Linked DNA regions of Homo sapiens. The gene in region 1 interacts genetically with each later gene. Each region holds a gene or a part of one and is shown in the gene's direction. Other genes may lie near its edges.

Region 1 (7,469 bases):
TTACAGGTGTGAGCCACTGCACCCAGTGTTTTGTTGTTGTTGTTGTTTGTTTGCTTTTTTGAGATGGAGTCTCACTCTGTCGCCCAGGCTGGAGTGCAGTGGCACAATCTTGGCTCACTGCGACCTCCGCCTCCCAGGTTCAAGTAATTCTCCTGCCTCAGCCTCCCAAGTAGCTGGGGTTACAGGCGCCTGCCACCACACCTGGCTAATTTTTGTATTTTTAGTAGAGACGGGGTTTCACCATGCTGGCCAGGCTGATCTTGAAGTCTGGACCTCAAGCAATCCGCCCACCTCTGCCTCCCAAACTGCTGGGATTACAGGTGTGAGCCACCAAGCCCGGCCAAGTGTCACATTTATGTTGAAAGGTGGAGGGGCAGCCAAGAAGGCAGGTGCTGGGGAGGCAGGCAGAAAGGGCTTGAGGGGACAGAGTGGATGGGTGGGAGAAATTTAGCGGGGCAGGACGGGAAATGAGGGGCTCAGTTCCCGGCGAAGCCCTTCTGTTTGCTGATGTGGCAGCTGCTGAGGGGGTGGGAAGAGGTCGGGGCCTGGACATGCTGAGGCCGAGCTGCCTGGGGGTTGTCCAGGGAGAGGGGTCTGGTCGCTCCCCAGCCTGGCAGGCATGGGACTAAAGATAAGGCAGGTCGAGAACAGTTTTGGGGTTTCAGGGATGGCGCAGCCATGGAGGATATGGTGAGCCTCATCCACAGAGAATGCGGAGAGGCTGGCCAAGGATGGAGCCCAGCGCCAGCTCTGGAGGGGCAGGTAGGGAAGGGCCTGAGCAGGGGATCCCCCAGGTTCCCAAATCTGCTGCTGCGGCTTCTGCTGCTGCCTCCCCACTCGGCCCTCAGCCTTCCACACTGCCACCAGCTCTGTCCTTTCAAAACACAAGTGCAATCAAATCGTTCGCCCCACCAATAAAGAAAAACCAGCAAAAATTCCCTGTCCTCAAGAGGCTTTTTTTTTTTTTTTTTTTTTTTTTTTGAGACGGAGTCTCGCTCTGTCACCCAGGCTGGAGTGCAGTGGTGTGATCTTGACTCACTGCAAGCTCCGCCTCCTGGGTTCACGCCATTCTCCTGCCTCAGCCTCCCAAGTAGCTGGGACTACAAGCGCCCTCCACCATGCCCGGCTAATTTTTCTGTATTTTTAGTAGAGTTTCACCGTGTTAGCCAGGATGGTCTCGATCTCCTGACCTCATGATCCGCCCGCCTTGGCTTCCCAGAGTGCTGGGATTACAGGCGTGAGCCACCGTGCCCAGCCCTCACAAGGTTTTTAATCTGGGACAGGTGGAGGACAGCCCCAGCGAGGGGCTGCGTTTCAGGCCCTGAGATGACAGGACAGTTGCTGCCCCTGTGAGCCACAGTCCTGCCTCCCGCCAGCTTGTGGGGAGGGTGTATCCTCTGCCCTCAGGCATCAGCCTGGCTGCTGCTTCTGCACCTGCCCAGCCCACCAGAGAGGAGGCCCCGTCTGTGATTCCCAGGGTCCCTGGTGCTTGTTGCATGTGAGTCCATTCTTAGTTGGAGAAGCTGCTTCTGGGGAGCGACGGGGCTGCCCCAGCACCGCTTATGATGGACACAGGTGAAGGGGAGACACAAGTTTCCAAATGTGCGAGGGCTGGGCCATAGGAGGGGGCGGTGGCCTTGGGGAATGCTTGTGAGAAGCAAAAGAAGCTAGGGTGGCAACTGGCTGGACAAACAGCATCTTGGGGTTTTTTCCTTTTTTTTTTTGAGATGGGGTTGCGCTCTATCTCCCAGGCTGGAGTGCAGTGGCGTGATCTCGGCTCACTGCAACCTCCGCCTCCCGGGTTCAAGCAACTCTCCTGCCTCAGCTTCCCGAGTAGCTGGGATTACAGGCACGCGTCACCATGCCTGGCTAATTTTTTGTATATTTAGTAGAGACGGGGTTTCACCATGTTGTGCAGGTTGGTCTCAAACTCCTGACGCCAAGTGATCCACCCGCCTGGGCCTCCCAGAGTGCTGGGATTTACAGGCATGAGCCACCACGCCCGGCCTTTGGGGGGTTTTGTTTGAGTGTTTTATGATGGCAGAGGTAAGTTTGACTCTGATAGCAAGGAATCCATAGACAGGGAAGGATGGAGTTTGGCGGCGGGCACTGACAGTGAATGATGGCCTGAGATGAGGAGTGGGCAGGGGGGCAGAGCCCTGTGGTAATGGAGGGAGGGGTGGTGTGAGAGGTGTAAGATGGGGGCTTGGTGCTCCCATCTGATAGCTTCTATTTGCTCTCTGAGGAGCAGCCAATTATCTCAGAGACACTGGAAGTGGGGTGAGAGGTTCGAGGAGAGTGCAGACTGCAAGACAGCTGACCAGAAATCAGCAGGCTGGGCGGTAGGGAGGGGCATCCATCCATCTGAGACACTGAGCCACTGTGGATGGTTGTTCCCAAGGGCCTGGTGGAAGCATGACAGTGGAGAGAGTGCGACGCAGGGTCCCCAGAGTCTCAGAGAGAGTGGAGAGTGCGGTGCAGGGTCCCTAGAGTCTCTCCGAAGAGAGCCAGCCCTGGGCTCAAGCACTAGCCCAGACTTGCCCCGGGCCCCTGCCAGCCTGCACACAAGCTCAGTGGTGTGGTAGTGTGGTGCTGAGGACCTTTTTGGGTACAAGTGACAGAAACCAACTTGAGCCAGCTGGGGCAAAAAGGAGGATTTCTGGCAGGGCACAGTTTCTCACACCTGTAATCCCAACACTTTTTGAGGCAGATGCAGGAGGATCATTTGAGGACAGGAGTTCAAGACAAGCCTAGGTAACTTATCAAGACCCTGTCTCTACAAAAAAATTAAATTTTAAAAAGATGATTTCTCAACCTGTGAAAACCAACAGTGGGAGAGGAGAGGCGTAGCGTGGCCTGTGCCTGAGGGCAGGGAGGGGACCCTGGTGGGGCCTCTCAGTTTGATTCCATTCATTCTCTTGGGCTGGCTCCTGCCCATGGATGGAGACTGGATGCCAGTCATTTGGCCAGTTCTTGCAGCAGCCAAACTCATTTAAAAACAGACCTTCAGGGCCAGGCGCGGTGGCTCACACCTGTAATGCCAGCACTTTGGGAGGCCGAGATGGGCGGATCACGAGGTCAGGAGATCGAGACCATCCTGGCTAACACAGTGAAACCCTGTCGCTACTAAAAATACAAAAAATTAGCTGGGCGTGGTGGCAGGTGCTTGTAGTCCCAGCTACTCGGGAGGCTGAGGCAGGAGAATGATGTGAACCTGGGAGGCGGAGTTTGCAGTGAGCCAAGATCACGCCACTGTACTCCAGCCTGGGCGACAGAGCGAGACTCTGTCTCAAAACAAACAAACAAAAACAAACAAAAAACAAAAAACAGACCTTCGGGCTGGGGGCGGTGGCTCATGCCTGTAATCCCAGCACTTTGGGACGCCATGGTGGGTGGATGGCCTGAGGTCAGGAGTTCAAGACCAGCCTGGCCAACATGGTGAAACCCCCTCTCTACTAAAATACAAAAATTAGCCGGGCATGGTGGTGCACACCTGTAATCCCAGCTACGCGGGAAGCTGAGGCGGGAGAATTGCTTGAACCCAGGAGACGGACGTTCCAGTGAGCCAAGATGGTGTCACTGCACTTCAGCCTGGGTGACGGATTGAGACTCTGCCTCAAAAACAAAACAAAACATAACAAAAAACAGACCTTGGCCTGCTGTGCTCAGAGGGGTTTCCCTGCTGCACCAGGCTGGCTCCTGCACCTTCTCTCCCAGCATGTTCTGCTCTGGGCTCATGCTCATCCCTGAGCCACTTCAGGGGTGGCCCTGGCCAGCCCTGCCCTTGAGAGGGGTGGGCACTGTCAGGGATCCTGGGGGATGCAGCTTTCCCAGAGCCCCCTGCTCCGTGGCCTCATGTGCCTCACACGCTTAGAACATTTGCTCTTTACAGGGGGACATGAGCGTGCCGTTTTTAAGCTGTGTTAAATGTCTCACTTGGCCTAGATGGGGGCTCTTCAGCCTGGGACCCCAAGGGCAGGGCCTGAATTCTCTCTCTGTTCCCCATCGCCAGGCTGGCAGCCCCTGAGGTGATGGCCCTGCGCCTCCTCTGACTTCTAGTTTGGGGGGCCCGGTAGGCAGCGCCTAGGCTTCTCCCGCCTTTCTCCCGCTGGACAGAGAGGGGCGGGGGACGAGGAGTCTGGGGACCCGATCCCCAGATTGGGACGGCCCAGGGGTGGGGTTCGGGCTCCTGTGCGGGGAGTCCCAACGGCGAGGGCAGCTGTGGTCCTGGCCCATGCCTCCCGCCGACACCACAGCCGACCCGGGTCAGGGCGTCAGACCCGCCGGAGCCGTAGTCCAGGTGCCCGGCCCGAGGGGCGGTGCTCGGGCCCCAGAGTGGTCAGCGATGGGCGGGGCGCTGCTCTCGGGAGCCGCCCTCCCACCCTCTGGACCAATGGAGATGCGCGGTTGCAGGCCCCGCCCGCTCAGGGCTTGACGACAGCGCGCAGGCGCACGGCGCGCCCGGGCGGGCCGGCTGGCTGGGAAGATGGCGGCGGGAACCTGGGCCGCCGCCGCCGCCGCCGCCGCCGCCGCGGAGCGAACCAGGGGTGTCCGGGGTGCGCGGTCCAGGGCCGGGGCCGGGCCATGAGCGCGCCGTCCTCGAGTCCCCGAGCCGCGGAGCCCGCCCGCGCCCCTCGGGCCGCCCCGCGTCCCTCGCCATGGCGCGGCTCGCGGACTACTTCGTGCTGGTGGCGTTCGGGCCGCACCCGCGCGGTGAGTGCCGAGGCCAAGCGCTGAGGGCCGGGGGCCGAGGGTCGAGTGCTGAGGGCCAGGGGCTGGGTCTGAGGGTCGAGGGCCGGGGGCTGGGGGCCGAGGGCTGGGGGCTGGGTCGGGAGGCCGAGGACTGAGGGCCGGGCGCTGAGGGCCGAGGACCGGGGGCTGGGCGCTGAGGGCCGGGGTCGGGGGAGCCGAGGACTGAGGGCCGGGGCCGGGGGCCGGGCGGGGACTGAAGGCCAGGGCCGACCGGACAGCCCGTGGGGAGAATGGGCGTCCGCTGGGGGCGGCGTGGCCGCGCGGGCCTGGTGGCGGCAGGGAGAGAAGGCTGGGCCCGGCCTGCCCGGCCTCCTTGGGGTGGGACGGGCTCTCTCCTTGGCCAGCTGCGGGCGGCTGTGGCTCTAGTGGCTCCAGGGGCGCGGACCCGCGGCTCGCCAGCCCGCCTCTGACCTTGGTGCTCCGTCTGAAGCCCCCGGCGGTCTTGGCGGGGTGCAAAGAGGGGGTGGAGTTCGGGTTTGGTGCATGGAGAAGCGGTGTTTGATTTGAAACTGGGAGGATTTGAGGAGGAAGCGTCGAGAGTAGAGAGAAGAGCATTCCTGGCGACTCGCCTGACGGTCCAGGCCCTGCACGCCAAGCCCTGGGTGGGGTATCAGCGTGGCGGTCGGTGCCCATGCCCAGGAGGTCTGTGTGTGGGGTCAGCGCCCGTGTCTGAGAGCTCTTCAGCCCAGGAGGTAGGAGAAAACGGAGCCTGACGATGACATCAGCAACAGCCTGGAGACAGCAGCGTTGGCGAGCGTGCTTGGTGTGCCAGGCCCCGCACAGCCCTTTGTGTACATGATCTCACCTCTTCCTCCCAGCAGCCCACCGGGGTTGCCCTGGTGTTGCCCCCATCTGTAGAGAAGTTAGGCGCGGATAAGCTGACTGCCTGGCCTGAGCCGGCTCAGAGAGGCTGGGACTGGCACTCAGGCTGTCAGATCCCAGCTGCAGACTGGCAGTGTGTGGGGATGGCTGTGTGGTCAGGCAGGGGCTGGATCTTGAGCCTGGAGGTGGGATTGAGCTTGCCTTCCCAGTTACCCTGTTTTTTGTCAGTCCAGTTGTCACTGTCCCCACCAAGGACCTGGAGTTCTCTCTTTTTTGTGTTTCTTCTGCTGGACACCCCCCTACACTTCCTGAAGCCTCTTTAGCATCTTCTTCGTCTCCAGCCCCTCCTCAGTGCCCTCTTACTCAGCACACACTCCTCTCTGCTCATGTCTATCCAAGTGTGTGTCTTATGGCACCGTCAGTCATGAGCATCTGTCTTTTTCTTTAGAGAGGGAGTTCTCGCTTGCTAGGACCACATAGTCCTCATCCCCACTGTGCAGGTTGGCTGTCAATGTTGTCTTGACCCACAGAGGGAGCTGTCTGCACCGAGGCACCTATGAGGGGCATGGAGGAGGCCTTACCACCTGGGGCAGAGGGTGCCTGAGGATCCAGGGAAGCAAGGCTGGCTGAGGGCTGTCTTGGCGTGAGGGGCCTTGGGCTGAGGGCTGGGGCGGGGGCTACAGGAACAGCTGATAATGACCCTGATGATCCTGAGGGCAGTGTGGAGAGGGTTTGGGTTGGTAGAGACTGCAGGCAAAGGCCAGGTGGGAGGCGTGGTGGCCGTGGGGTGAGGAGTTGAAGGTAGGCAGAGAGAAGAGGCAGAGTGGGCTCCACAACAAGCTGGCTGTGACGTGTGTGCTCACTGCTGGAGCCACACGTAGTGCAGGCACCTGTTTGTGTGTGTCCTTTGCGCAGGACAGGGTAGAAGGCTGGAGCCCAAGGTGCCCCCCCTTCCCCTAAGTGACCGGAAGGAGTGATAAGTGGTCCACTGCAGTAGGGTTGGAGGACCGTGGAGCCCTGTACCCACTACCTTCTGGGGTTGAGCTGGTCAGCTGCTTGCTGGCCTTGCAGCCCCAGGCACCCCTTAGAAGGACTTGTTCATTCTTGAGGGGAACAAGGCTATAGACTGGGACCCTGGTCATGGGCTGAGGGCAGAGCCAGGTACCAGGGCCGGTGGGAGCTGGGGGAAGAAGCAGAGGAGTGTGGCGTGGGGGTCACTTGTCTCTGCTTTGCCCCTTGATAGCCTTGTGACTTCGAGCCAGTTGTTTGGCTCTCTGTGCCTCAGTTTCCTCATCTGGGGATGGAGTGAGTCATGCTAACCTCCCAGGCTGCCGTGAGGATGCAGCGAATGCACAGGTGTGAAGCAGTAGCACACAGGAGGCCCTGGAAATGATGAGTTTCTTTCATTAGTGACTGAGCAGCAGGTGTGTGAACTCTCTAGGCACAGACACAACAGGCACTTCTGAGTGGGTAGAGGATCCTCTCTGTTCTGTCAGGCTAGGACTTCAGGGCGGGATGCAGGGTCTCTTGGGTTGGGGATTAGGATTGGCGGATAGCTTGTCTTGGCCTGGATCTGGACATCCTGTCTGGAGCTGCTGGGTGCAGCACCAGGGTGCTGAGGGTGCATGAGTCCTGCCTGAGGCAGCATCCCAGTTGCTAGTGGTTACCAGCTGGAAACCTCTCAGGAAAGGTGGGGAGGGGCCCTGAGAAGGTAAATGCCTGTGCTGGCCGTGACCCTTTCACCTCAGAGAGTGATGGTGGCCAGCGCTGGCCCATCTGCAGGCCCCTCACCTGGTGAGTCAGGGATCACCTTCTGTGCTCTGGGGCAGGCATCAGGACTAGACAGACTGCCTCTGCCCGGCTCTTGGCCTGATCACAGCGTGGCCAGTGCTGAG
Region 2 (7,441 bases), on another chromosome or scaffold:
CCGTCTCAAAAAAAAAAAATCATTCAATCAACACAATACTAGATTAAGAGCAGCATACTCAATGAGCAGACCTCCCCATTCTCCATGCCCATAACAACTCACACACCAGGATCTTGATGGGCAGGATCCCCCTCTCATTTTTAAAATTTGGCTCTGCCCAGTTCCCAGTTCAAATCAAGCACTGGCCAATTGCAATGGAAAAGGCAAAGACTTAATTATCAGACAGATCTGCTCTAGAACCCGGGAAAGATGCCTCACCTCTGAGCTTTGGTTTCCGCATCTATACAATGGAGGTAACTGATTTCCAACGGGGATCCCACTGAGTCACCTCTCTGCCTCCTCAGGACTTGCTCTCCCAGAAACAAAGGAGTAACTCAAAAGCGTCCTTGGCGTTTACAGCTATTTCCAAGGGCATAATTAGAAACTGTTGCACAGCAAAGCCTAGAATTGAGCTCCCTGCCCCTTCCGATTTCTGAAATCTGGTGAATTCGAGATCTCAGACATCCTACCTTTAGAGGAGGAGAAAAAGAGAAAGGTAGTGGGGAGGAAGATAAAGGTGAGGGAGACTCCAGAGAGGGCAGGCTTCTTCAGTCTGCAAGAGCAACGGAAGAATTTCTAGGTGGAAAGGGGAACTCCCCCAAGCTAGAGAAGGAGGGAGTCTCAGGTTTCCTTTAATTCATTATTCTTTACACCGCAACACCACTCCCCACCCCACCCTGACCAGGTCCCCAGATGGGCACTGAGTCTAGGAAGGATCCATCAGCATCATTTATCCCTACTCCCAGTCCCCCACAGAAATCTTAGAAATCCAGTGTTCTGGTTGGCCGGGCGCGGTGGCTCACGCCTGTAATCCCAGCACTTCGGGAGGCCGAGATGGGCGGATCATGAAGTCAAGAAATAGAGACCATCCTGGCTAACATGGTGAAACCTCATCTCTACTAAAAATACAAAAAATTAGCCGGGCGTGGTGGCACATGCCTGTAGTCCCAGCTACTCAGGAGGCTGAGACAGGGGAATTGCTTGAACCCGAGAGGCAGAGTTGTGGTGAGCTGAGATCACGCTACTACACTCCAGCCTGGGCAACAGAGCGAGACTCCGTCTCAAAAAAAAAATGTGGTATACACAATGGAATACTATTCGGCCATAAAAAACAATGAAATCATGTCTTTTGCAGCAACATGAATGAAACTGAAGGCCATTAATTTGAGTGAAACAACTCAGAAACAGAAAGACAAATACTGAATCTTTTCACTTGTAAGTGGGAGCTAAATAATGTGTACACATGGACATAGCATGTGGAATTATAAACAACAGAAACTTGGAAGGGTGGGGAGGTGGGAAGGAAGTAGATGATGAGGAAATTACTTAACGAGTACAATGTGCATTATTCAGGCTATGGATACAGTAAAATGCCTGACTTCACCACTACACAATGTATCCGTGTAACAAAATTACACTTGTGGCCTGGCACTGTGGCTCATGCCTGCAATCCCAGCACTTTGGGAGGCCAATGCACATTATTCAGTTGATGGATACAGTAAAATGCCTGACTTCACCACTACACAACGTATCCATGTAAAAAAATTACACTTGTGGCCTGGCGCTGTGGCTCATGCCTGTAATCCTAGCACTTTGGGAGGCCAATGTACATTATTCAGATGATGGATACAGTAAAATGCCTGACTTCACCACTACACAATGTATCTGTGTAACAAAATTACACTTGTGGCCTGGCATGGTGGCTCATGTCTGTAATCCGAGCACTTTGGGAGACCAAGGCAGGTGGATCACTGGAGGCCAGGAGTTTGAGACCTGCCTGGCCAACGTGGTGAAACCCCATCATCTCTACTAAAAATACAAAAATTAGCCAGGTGTGGTGGCACACGCCTGTAATCCCACCTACTCAGGAGGCAGAGGCAGGAAAATCGCTTGAACCCGGGAGGCAGAGGTTGCAGTGAACCGAAATCACGCCACTGCACTCCAGCCTGGGTGACAGAGTGAGACTCTGTCTCAAAAAAAAAATATTATATTTGTACCCAATAAATTTATATGAAACAATTAAATGCTTCTGAGATCTGGCTTAATGGTTGCTCAGCCTGCATTCTGGTTCCACATGTAGGTCTGCTTGTGAAAACTCATTACAGTGTTCACCCCTGGTCTGTGTACCCTTCTGTATTTGTGTTACACTCCAATCTGAGGTTTACATTACAATAGGTCAAACCTGTGAATAAAACCTTATATTGGCTCCGGCACTGGGCAACGCAGTAATCATTAAATTAATGCTGAATGAACAGACAACTGGCTGGGAGTGGGACACGGTAGCAATAAGATGGCCTCTTAACTTTTGAGGTCTCCTGAAAAAGTGCTAGTCCAGAATGATTCACTTTCCAGATGAGCAGGAGACACCCACCCCAAGGTCACTTACTGCAGGTTTTACAGACCAGTTTAAGAAACTGCCTAAGATCAAGTAATTTAGTAAATGGCAGAGCCTGGATATGAGTCCAGGTAGTCAGGCTCCAGAATCCAGACTTTTGCCCACTACTTTATAGTGTTTGGGGGCACTACTGGCGACAGACCCTTTTGTCTCCCTCTCAGATCCAGACAGGCAGAGGTCCTGTCTTAAATCACTCTTGTGGGTTGGACAGGTCTCCTGGACACCCGGGAGTGGGAGAGCCCTGCTGCCCGAGGAGACTGGGGGTACATGAGGATGAGCACCTGACTCTGCTCGAGAAGGAGTAAGGGAGGGAAGGGGATGCATGGTGGGACCTTCGCTCCTGTCTGTCCCCTCAGGGCAAGCTGGGGCTGACGGAACCTCAGACCAGCCAGTCACTTCTTAATGAGCTCACAGCTGGACTGGCAGGCAGACAGAATATCCGTTTGGTTAACTGTATAACTGTTTGGTTGACTACAGAACTCATGGAGTGACAGGGAGAAGGCGCAACTTGAGGACGTGACAGCGCAGTTTCCTGAACATCTAACTGAATGACAGCCTGCCTAGGACTGGCTGGGGCTGGTAGCCTGACAGTGGAAAAGACAGGCAGCCTCCTGAGGACCTTGCAGGCTGGCTGACTGATGGCCCGTGGTGCTACTGCCTGCCTGGGTGGCCGGATGTTGTGAATGACTATTGTCAGGAATCACAGCTGGCGGGGGAATGTCTAGATGTTATACTGTCTGGCACCGTGTAAAGGAGGGCCACCTGGGGAAACTTCAGGCTAACTGATCAACAGACCCGTGGCTGCTTGCTAGGCAGCTGTATCTGGTGATCAACTATCCACGCTGCTCGAATCACAGCATGCTGGAGGGCCTGGCTGGGTGCTCTGACTGACTGATCACCTGACAGACGGTGCGGTCAGTCGGATGCTGAGAATGACTGACGATGTGATGAGGGGCGGATTGAACGAGTCACAGGCCAGCTGGCCAGGAGCAAAATCGGCATAGCTGTCTGACTCGATGGCTGTACGTGGTTACGGACTGTCTGCCCTGATAGAATCTCAGCTTCAACGCATCAGAGGAGACTGACTTGACCAATGGTGGGGATGAGTCGCCTGAGAAATGACAGACTGGCTGACCCACTGACAGGTGGTGTGGAGGCTTAATCCTACCTCTAGTTGCTGTGACTATTTGCTTTGAGGGCCTAGCTGGATGTTGTGACTGATCGTGGTGTGAATGAGAAGTAATCTGAGGGAAAGACAGTGACCAACTGATAGTGCCCGACAGGGCTGTATTAGATGCTGACAGTGACAGCTTGTCCCGACCTAATCACAGCCCGCCTGGGGGCATGGCTGGATGCTGCAGTCTATGAGAGGATTTAGCCAGGGAGAATCGCAGCTGGTCCCAGGGCTATGGTGGGTGGAGAGGAGGACTGATTGATCTGCTGACAACGTGAGGACAGGATGGTCTTAGGGAATGATAAGGCAGGCTGGCTAACAGTGCTGTCTGCCTGCCTCCAGGGAGTCGCCGCTGGCCAGGGCACAAATGGAAGCCAGTATTGACTGCCCAGCAGTGTGGATGGGGGCCGGGAGTCTGACTAGGCACCTGTCTGGGGCGACCGCCTGAGCAGTTGGATACGGCACTAGTCCACCTGGGAGCCCCGGCCTGCTTGGGGTTAAAATGAGATGACGGGCTGACTGACGGTGATAACAGGGAGTATGACAGGACTGAGGAACCACTGCGACTGGCTGATAACGTGATTGGCTAGCAGTGTGACAGACAGACCAGCGCACGGGCAGGGCCTCTGGCAACTTTAGCTACCGCCGCTGTCGCTCCCGCTGCCGCCGCCGCCCAGACGCACTCTGGGAAAGCGCGGCGAGCACCCGCCTCCGGGACCGAGCCGGGCGGCAGGGAGGGGTTCGGTCACGGCTCTCCGGTTGGTCCGCGCGGGTGCTGCGAGTCGGGAGCCGCGGCCAATAGGCTGCGCGTTCCCGGCCACGCCCGCGCGAGCGCTCTTCTCGCGAGGCCGGCTAGGCCCGAATGTCGTTAGCCGTGGGGAAAGATGGCGGAAAATTTAAAAGGTGAAGCAGTGGAGGCAGAGGCGCGGGCCCGCTGGCCGGGCCGGGTGGGCTGGAGGGGTGGCGTTGCCGGCTCGGGGCCCCGGCGTCCGAGGCCCCGGCGCCGGGAGCCGGAAGCTCGGCGCGGAAAGGATGAGGCTCGGGGAGCGCGGGCCTGGTGCGCGGGGCTGGGCGGGGCTCAGGGGAGGGGGCGCGCGCCTCGGAACGCAGCGGGCCTGGGGCTAAGTGGGGACGCAGGAGGGGGGCGCGCGCTGCAGATCGCGGCCGGACCGGCGCGCGCACGCGCGGGGGCTTGTCGAGGAGGCCGCGCCCGCGCGCGGGAAAATCGGCCCCTGGTGACCGTTACCCATTCGGTGTCCACGCGAGACGCCGGAAGGGGAGGGAAGATAAGGGGGACAGACCCCCCCTTCAGAGTGCGGGGACTGAGAACTCTTCTGGGGGAAAGTATCGCCTCTCGGCGTGATGGGGGAAGGGTTTGGAATAGAGGATCTCCCAGAAGAGAGAAATGGGGCCTTCCTAATAGGACAGCTGGACTCCCCCATGTGCAGGGAAAGAGGGGTGACTCAGTTATGTTGGGGGGCCCCTCTATGTGACGAAAGCCGCAGGGAGGATGGGTTCCACAAGTGGGAGGACCTCTGAGGGGTTCAGGAGAGTCCACCTGTGGCCAGTTCCGGAGCCAGCAGCTGGAGGGTGTTAATTGGGACCACTTAAGTGGGGTTTCAAATGCAAGTGAAGGAAGGGGTTTGCGAGGACAGGCTGTAGGGAGAGGAAAGCGTGGGCACAGGCGGGCTCAGTCTCCACTTGGTCTTGCCTAAGTAGGGGGGGTAGGGCTTGCACACGAAATAATTTTGAAAAGCTCTTGTACGTTTTTAGGTTGACATCTAAAGTTTAGGTGTGATTTTTGCAATGGGAGGCAGAAAATATTAAACATTTTAAAAAGATGATATAGGATGAGGACTGACTGCCCTTGGAATGTTTTGAGACATGATTTGATAAAATGGCTTCTAAAGTACTTTGATTAAGAATGTGCCTTGAATCAGAAAGAAATCTGTTTTTTAAAATCCGTGTGTCTTACAAAATTTTGGCAGTCCCAGAAATATACCAGGTATATTTAAAAGAATCAGTGTCACTAATCTGTACCGCTTTGCGTATAAATTCAGAGCATAACCCTTTGGATGAGCTTTACTCTTCACAGAAAGATGGATGAGACAGAAAGTCAAAATGCAGTGTGAAAAAATATACCTTGTGGATTTAAGGCACCCAGATTGATCATTTAAGGAGCCTTCCTGTAATGTAGTATCATTCCACAATCTCTTGCTCATAATTCCGAAATCTAAAAAGCCCTGAAAACTGAAATCCTTTTCTTAAATTTGGCACCATTTATGGCAAAAGTAGATTATAAAGTGGAACTCTTCTGTGAGGCTATTTTATATCTCTATTTCTCCTATTTAATGTGGGAAATTCATACTTTTGCTGCAGGACGGTTAATGCATTTGATTATAGCTTGATGTCCCCTGGCCACGCTGGGGGTGTTAGGTGATGTATGGGATATCCTAGAACTAGTCTTGTAAAATCCAAAAAATTTTGAATTCCAAAACACATCTGGCCCAGGAGTTTGAGATAAGGGATTAAAGACCAGTCTTTCCAGTTACGCCTTTGTTTGGTGCCCTGGAGGTTTTAATCTTGTCCTCCCATCCGCCCCACCTCGGGGCACTGCATCCTACTGAGATGGGGGGTTGTTCTCTTTCTTTTGCAAAGTGGAGAGAGGGGTGATCAGGTCCTGAACCCAAAGCAGGTTTGCAGGCAGTTTTAGGAATGACATGGAGTTTGAAGCTCTGGAAATAGATTCCTTTAGGACAATTCATGTTGCAAACCCCGCTTAGAGGTCTGCTGCTCCAGGGGCAGCTTTGGGCAGTGAGTATTGGGGTTCAAAGCACATTTCTGTTGTAGAACAGTCTCAGCACTGGGGAAGGCCTGTGGATTAAATTTCCCTGACTCTTAGTCAGTCTTTGGGATGTCCCAGGGAGGATTTGGGGTCCCCTTTGACTCCTGGCCTAGTCAGGCTGCCCAGTAATAGTTCTTTCTGCCCCGCTTGATCCAGGCTGCAGCGTGTGTTGCAAGTCTTCTTGGAATCAGCTGCAGGACCTGTGCCGCCTGGCCAAGCTCTCCTGCCCTGCCCTCGGTATCTCTAAGAGGAACCTCTATGACTTTGAAGTCGAGTACCTGTGCGATTACAAGAAGATCCGCGTGAGTCTGGGGTGACCATGCTCTGGGAGGGGACAGGTCACAAGGAAGTTAGTGTCCTGCCCTCTTGTCCCCAACTGCCCACATCTGTTTCCAAAGGGAATTTTCTCCTTTGACCCTGAAAACACAGGATGAATAGACCCTTTTATCCCTATGTTACAGATAGGGAAACTAAGTAGCTTTCTGGGCAGGAGCCGGAATGAATTCCCAAATAAATCTCTTCCCATCTCCCTAGGAATACAAAGTAATTGCAGAGATTGAGATGCTGAACCCTGGAGTGGAAATGTCAATAGCTAATGGCTATTGAGCACTTTCAGTGTGCCAGGCGTTTCCTCTCGGAAACTCATTTAATCCCCTAACAACTGAAATGGGGATAGTTATTGCCAGAAGGGGGAGTGGCAGGATGGTTAGGAGAACAAACTGGAGTCAGCATGCTTGGGTTCCAGTCCTGGTTGTGTTACCCCAGGCTACCTACCCAAACCTTCAGTACTTCATTTTCCTTGTCGTAAAAGAGGGATAACTAGGAGCATCTACCTCATGTGGGGTTGTGAGGATTAAGTTAGTTAATAATACATGTAAGCTGCCTAGAACAGGCAAGGACTTGTCAGGGTCCAGGTGAGCCAGGGTGGTGGCAGTGATGATGGTTTGTCACTGGACGTATTTTGAAGGTGGGGCCAACGGGATGTGCA

The links. Genes that interact genetically often act in the same process or in processes that back each other up.
Region 2: of SBF1 (region 1) and SUV39H1, a change in one rescues a mutant of the other (synthetic rescue), as found in Homo sapiens cells (one study listed by BioGRID).

The regions. Positions count from the first base shown.
Region 1 is NC_000022.11:50,472,030-50,479,498, reverse strand, and holds the start of SBF1 (myotubularin-related protein 5), read left to right. Parts: upstream 1-4,463; 5' UTR 4,464-4,658; coding exon 4,659-4,713; intron 4,714-7,469. UniProt on the Homo sapiens protein: Acts as an adapter for the phosphatase MTMR2 to regulate MTMR2 catalytic activity and subcellular location. Promotes the exchange of GDP to GTP, converting inactive GDP-bound Rab proteins into their active GTP-bound form.
Region 2 is NC_000023.11:48,692,293-48,699,733, forward strand, and holds the start of SUV39H1 (histone-lysine N-methyltransferase SUV39H1), read left to right. Parts: upstream 1-4,441; 5' UTR 4,442-4,492; coding exon 4,493-4,511; intron 4,512-6,609; coding exon 6,610-6,755; intron 6,756-7,441. UniProt on the Homo sapiens protein: Histone methyltransferase that specifically trimethylates 'Lys-9' of histone H3 using monomethylated H3 'Lys-9' as substrate. Also weakly methylates histone H1 (in vitro).